Linked DNA regions of Homo sapiens: region 2 is reported to be linked to region 1. The links are microRNA targets in miRTarBase. Many come from high-throughput screens and were not tested one by one. Region 1 holds a microRNA gene; the other region holds the end of a gene's coding sequence.

Region 1 (3,148 bases):
CCCTCCTCTCCTATATTTCTTGTGTGTTGGTGGTTAGATTTAGAAACCTGATTAGATTCATGTCCCACATTTTTGGCAAGAAAAATTCCCAGGTGGTTCTGTGAACTTCTTCTTGCGTCACATCAGGCACTTGGTGTCTGGTGCCCCAGTTGTAGTGATGTGAAGATTGATTAGCCATCTGCAGCACTCCTAACAACCTCTCTTGATCGCATCCTGGGATCACTGCCCTGGAAACATCCTCTCCCTTTTCTTAGCCCCTGCTTTCTTCCCTTGCCTGCCTGGCTTCTATGCTCCCAAGCCCATCTTCTAGGCACCCAGATTGAGGCTCCATGGCAAGCAGCAGGGACAGGGGCAGCAGGTAGCCTGACCCCAGGAAAGAGATGTGGGTGACCTTGCATGTCTCCAGGTTACATCCACTACCAGCCTGCCCAGGACCGGCTGCAACCCCACCTCCTGGAGATGCTGATTCAGCTGCCGGCCAACTCAGTCACCAAGGTTTCCATCCAGTTTGAGCGGGCGCTGCTGAAGTGGACCGAGTACACGCCAGATCCTAACCATGGCTTCTATGTCAGGTGGGCTCCACCCCCACAGGCCACCTCTCATCCCCCTGACCTACCCTTTCTGCTGCTTACCCCTTGATAGGGCAGCCAGATGGGAACACGGGCCATCTCTCTGCTTCTCTGTAGCCCATCTGTCCTCAGCGCCCTTGTGCCCAGCATGGTAGCAGCCAAGCCAGTGGACTGGGAAGAGAGTCCCCTCTTCAACAGCCTGTAAGTGTGACCACACTCACTGATAACACATCCTCAGCTGCCTGCTGGGCCTTAACACAGGTGACCAGGCTCCTGCAGGGGAGTTCAGGGTAGATGTTACATCTTCCAAAGAGATGTGTAGATTTAATTCAATCCTAATAAAAATCCTGGCAGTCTGTGGAATTTGTGAAGACTTTATAAAATGATTTTAAAGTGCTTCTAGAAGAATACTTTTACTTACAGCCTACATTTACTTCTTGATGCTCTTAAATATTTAATCAAGCACTTATCAAATGCCAAGTGCTTCTGAGAGCACTGAGTGTGCAAGATTAAACAAAACAGACTTGGCCCTGGCCTCCCTTTGCTTACAGTCTAGAAGGAAGATTCTGGTCTAGAGAGTAATGGGGTTAGAGGTTGGGTAGGAATTGATTTACTGGGTTATCTAGGAAGGCTTCATTTAGGAGGTGGCATTTAGGCTGAAACCAGGCTAAGAAAGAAGCAACCAAGCAAAGGCGGGGCCCCTTTCCTCCACCTCAACACCAGGCGTCTCTCTTTCTTTCCTTTCTCTCTCTTTCTTTCTTTCTCTTTCTTTCTTTCTTTCTTTCTTTCTTTCTTTCTTTCTTTCTTTCTTTCTTTCTTTCTTTCTTTCTCTTTCTTTCTTTCTTATTTATTTTTTATTTTACTTTAAGTTCTGGGATACATGTGCAGAACATACAGGTTTGTTACATAGGTATATATGTGCCACGGTGGTTTGCCGTACCCATCAACCCATCATCTAGGTTTTAAGCCCCGCATGCATTAGGTATTTGTCCTAATGCTCTCCCTCCCCTTGCCCCCCGCCCGCCGCTCCCCTTTATCAGGTTTAGAGATTGAGCTATGCCTTCTGTTGAAAGGTTTTGAGCCTAAGAGAACATTGGAAACACTGTGTTGCATTGCCCAATACTGCCGGAATGAGGATGGGGTGAGATGGGGAGGAGCAGCCAGTCCTGTCTCACCGCTCTTCCCCTGACCCCAGGTTCCCAGTCTCTGATGGCTCTAACTACTTTGTGCGGCTCTACACGGAGCCGCTGCTGGTGAACCTGCCGACACCGGACTTCAGCATGCCCTACAACGTGATCTGCCTCACGTGCACTGTGGTGGCCGTGTGCTATGGCTCCTTCTACAATCTCCTCACCCGAACCTTCCACATCGAGGAGCCCCGCACAGGTGGCCTGGCCAAGCGGCTGGCCAACCTTATCCGGCGCGCCCGAGGTGTCCCCCCACTCTGATTCTTGCCCTTTCCAGCAGCTGCAGCTGCCGTTTCTCTCTGGGGAGGGGAGCCCAAGGGCTGTTTCTGCCACTTGCTCTCCTCAGAGTTGGCTTTTGAACCAAAGTGCCCTGGACCAGGTCAGGGCCTACAGCTGTGTTGTCCAGTACAGGAGCCACGAGCCAAATGTGGCATTTGAATTTGAATTAACTTAGAAATTCATTTCCTCACCTGTAGTGGCCACCTCTATATTGAGGTGCTCAATAAGCAAAAGTGGTCGGTGGCTGCTGTATTGGACAGCACAGAAAAAGATTTCCATCACCACAGAAAGGTCGGCTGGCAGCACTGGCCAAGGTGATGGGGTGTGCTACACAGTGTATGTCACTGTGTAGTGGATGGAGTTTACTGTTTGTGGAATAAAAACGGCTGTTTCCGTGGTTCTTTGCCTCTTGTCCTTGAGTCCTGGGAAGAGCTGGGGACTGGGGATTGTTTGCTGAGTGCCTGAACAGGACCTCCTACCCTATGCCTGCAACCCCCTCCACAAAAAACAAAAAACCCTACCTCCTCCCACCTGGCCGGAAATTTCTTCTCCTGATCTGCTCCCCCTGTCCTCCCCATCCCCATCTGATTGTGATTCCCAGAACTCCCCGGGTTGTTTGGGAGTGTTTCTGAAAGCATAATCCATGGCCATGGAAATGAATCATCCTACTTCTTGGGGGCATTGAGAGTCAGTCCACATCAGCAAGGGTAGAGTGGAGAGGTGGGAGGGCTCTGGGTGGTGGGTCTCTAACTGTAGTGTGCATCAGAGTCACTGGGGGCACTTGTGAAAATAATGTATGTTCCTGGGGTCCAGATCCTACTAATTCAGTTGGTCTGGGTGTGGCCCAGACTTTGACTTTTTAGCAGGCTTCTCAGGAGCTCCTGCTGTGCTCTGTCCTCAGACCACCCCCAGGCTTTGAAGCCAGGCTCATTGGATTGAAGCCCGCCCCGCCCACCTCCCTTGCTGGTTACATAACCCTGGATTTCTGTAAAACAAGCCTTTAGGCGGTTGCCTCCCACTGCCCTCATCTTCTGTCTTTTCCTCTGGCACACTTGGCATCAACTGTGTGTTATTTGCAGTTCCCCCCACCTCCTACCCCACTCAGTTCTCCCA
Region 2 (3,000 bases), not on the chromosome of region 1:
GCCCAGTGGGCCGCTCTCTCACACAAGCCCCTGGGAAGGGCACAGGGCTGGGGCTCAGGGCAGGTCTCAGTTTCCTCATGGGGTGAGGGGAATGTGAACTTCCCAGGCTCTCACAACCCGCTCTCTCCCACGGAGGGGCCCTCACTGGGAGCCCTCCTCGGCCTCCTGCTTCCTTGGTGCTTCTTTGTTGCTTAAAACCATCAGAAGGCATCACAGGGTGGCAGTGACCTGAGAGTTCAGAAACGCAGCTATTTCCACCGCTGCCCCCACCTGCCACGGCCCCTGCAGTGCGGGGCTGAGACCTTGCTCCCATTTCCTGTTAAAACCCAGAGTGGTCCCCAAGAACCGCCTGTCTCCACACCCTGAAGACACACAACCCCATCCCTGCGCTAGATCTCGGGTTCATCTGGCACCGCCCGCCAGCACTTGAGGAGGGCGATTTGCATCTGAGACGTTCCAGACACGCTAGCCTTCATCATCTCCAGTCTTCCCCCAGGCTGCTGCCTGGACGTGGCCTGTGCCCTCTCCTAGTACCCAGATGGGCCCTTCAACCCAAATCCTGCCCTGCACCCACACACCTGGTTTTTTACTGGACAAAGAAACATCTTGCCTTCAATGTAAACTGCACAGAAAAAATCGCTATGCACACACAGCTCCATCTGTATGTGCTGCTCCAAGATCGCAAATCTGGAAACACTTCTCTTGGCCTTTACAGGAGACCCTTCCCATGCTCTAAGCCTTCGGTGGTGGGAGGCAGAAGGGCGGATGTGGCCAGGGCAGCTAGAGGCAGTGCCAGACCCGTCTGTGAGGAGCCAAAAGGACCCCCGGGCTGCCGGCCCACAGGCACAGGCCAGTGACAGGTCGAGGGGGCTGGGCTGTTGTTTGGGGCCCTGGAGGAACCCAGGTCACACAGGGGCCTTCTAAGGTGGCCCAGGCTACAAGGGTGTGTCTGGGCAGAGGCCAGGACCACAGCCAGATCCTTCCCTCTGCCCAAGGCCAACTCAGGATCCACAAATGGTTTATTGATTCCAAGTCGCCACACAGGGTACATTCAGCAGTCACTGCGCCTGCAGTCGGCGACAGTTTAATGTGAGGCAATTACCGCTACAGACATCTTGCTTCATCTTAAAAAAATAAAAATTTTCAAAGCATCTCACAGGCCAAAGAGCTAAGCAGGACCCTCACTCAGACATTCAAGAGTGTTTCCGAGGAAAACTCGAGGAGGAGGCAGCGTGGAACATCTTCCCATGGCCACGGCCCCGGCACAGAGCTCAGATGCCTGCGGGAAGCGGCCCCTCCACCTGCGGAAGGGAAGACGATGCCTGTTGGAGCCGCACGGAAGCATCCAGAACTCTGAGGCCTGGGGGCCGGCTGCGGTCAGTGCAAGGCTGCTGACATGGTGTGACCTCTTGCAACGGGGTGGGGGCAGAGCGTGCGGTGACAAGGGTCAGACTGGCGGCTCCCACTGCAGCCAGAAGTGAGGGAGCCAGCACACGGGGGTGGGCAGTGGACAGGACAGGATGCGGCAGGCCCCAGTACCCCCCACTCAGGAATTTGCTTCAGGCCAAAAGCCCAGGGCAGCAGGGTAAGGCGCCATCGGCCAGGACCTGCACGGCAGGGGCAGCCCCCTCCACTCCCTGGACCCGAGACCGTCTCTCCTGGAAGATGGACATCAAAACTGCATCCGGAGGTGCAGTCTGCACCCAGAAGGAAGGGGATCTCCGCCAGCAGAGCCCAAGAGTGGCGTGCAGACTGCATGTGCACAGCCTCAGCCCGGCCCCCTCAGCCATTGCCCATGAGGGCCTCCACGTTGTCTGATGGTCGCTGGCATCTGCCACGTCCCCAAGGACTCGAGGAGAACCAGAGGCTGACAAGAGCAGCATGAGCTAGCCCTGGCGATGCTCAGCCGGGCTGGACACAGCGGATCCACAAGGCGTTCAGGCCTCGCAGCCACTCCAAAGGCCCAGGAAACACCGACTGTCAGAAAACCCGGAGCACGGTGACCCTGCGTCCGCACAGCCGCCTTTCCGTGTGTACCAGGCAGAGAAAGCCCCAGCCCTCCCCCGTGCCAGACCCCTGGGTAGCAGAGGCCACCCCAGTCCAAGCAGGGTGTCTGGCCAGGGTGTCACGGGGTCGAGGGCTCCGCTCACAGGCCTTACAGGGTCTCCTGCGGTCACCCCAGCTTCAAGGTTCGCGGCTGCTGGCCCGTGTGTCCACCTGGAGCAGGTTCCTGCAGGCCGCCCAATGTGTACCTTGGGCTCAGACGGTGTTTCATAAGAGGAAATGGGGAAAACACTTGCTTTTTATGTCATCCTAAAAACATCCAAAACCCTCGGGGCCAGATCAACCCTGGCTGTCCCCGCTGAGCACAAACAGCGTCCCAGCCCCACCCCCACTGCCCACCCTGAGACACCCCACAGAGGCTGATGGAGACCCCAATGCCCATGCCCCATCTCTGCCACACCTGCAGGGGCCACAGCACCCACCCTCCCCGCGGGGAGGTCAGGGCCCACCAGTGCCCGCGGCTGGCGGTCCCACATCCTCGTCCTCCCCACTGTCAGAGGGCCTTGGTGCCAGTGGGGTGCACGGCGTGGGGCGCCGGCTTCTGGGGGTGGCGGGCGAAGGCGTAGGCCTGCCCCAGGATGGCCAGGTCCACCAGCACCTGCAGCAGGCCGCACACGGAGAACTGCAGAGGGGCACCCTTCAGCAGGAAGTAGGCCGTCTTGAAGGCGTCACCACTGGTCCACATGAGCACCATCTTGATGCTGTGGAGACACAAGCAGGCGGTCAGCGGTGGGGAGGGCGGCGACCTGGGCTCAGTCAGTGGGGAGGCCTGGGGCTTAGACAGCGGGGAGACCTGGGGCTCAGGGGCACCCAGGGGGCTAAGGGGACCCCCAGGCAGTCGGCGGGGAGGCCTGGGGCTCAGGGGGCACCCAGGGGGTTGAGGGGACACCCAGTCTACAGGGTGACCCAGGGGTCAGGGACACCCCAGGGGGCCAA

Evidence for each region. Region 1 holds the annotated microRNA hsa-miR-6812-5p (AUGGGGUGAGAUGGGGAGGAGCAGC, at 1,706-1,730, shown strand). A microRNA usually pairs through its seed, bases 2 to 8, with sites in the 3' UTR of a target mRNA and lowers its output. Matches are read on the target gene's strand: a 7mer-m8 pairs with bases 2 to 8, a 7mer-A1 pairs with bases 2 to 7 and ends in A, and an 8mer does both.
Region 2: miRTarBase lists SLC66A2 as a target of hsa-miR-6812-5p. The part of its 3' UTR that is shown has no 7-base or 8-base seed match.

The regions. Positions count from the first base shown.
Region 1 is chr20:45,423,810-45,426,957 of GRCh38, forward strand. It overlaps MIR6812 (microRNA 6812), which reads left to right and starts at 1,701; the gene lies at 1,701-1,764. PIGT (phosphatidylinositol glycan anchor biosynthesis class T) reads left to right here. Exons shown (of 12, transcript NM_015937.6): 10 at 407-572; 11 at 687-770; 12 at 1,765-2,432. The coding sequence ends at 2,017.
Region 2 is chr18:79,901,419-79,904,418 of GRCh38, forward strand. SLC66A2 (solute carrier family 66 member 2) reads right to left here. Exons shown (of 6, transcript NM_025078.5): 6 at 1,002-2,765. The coding sequence ends at 2,558. Among named protein-coding and RNA genes, the nearest start is that of SLC66A2, 49 kb to the right of the region's middle. RefSeq lists an enhancer at 2,749-3,000.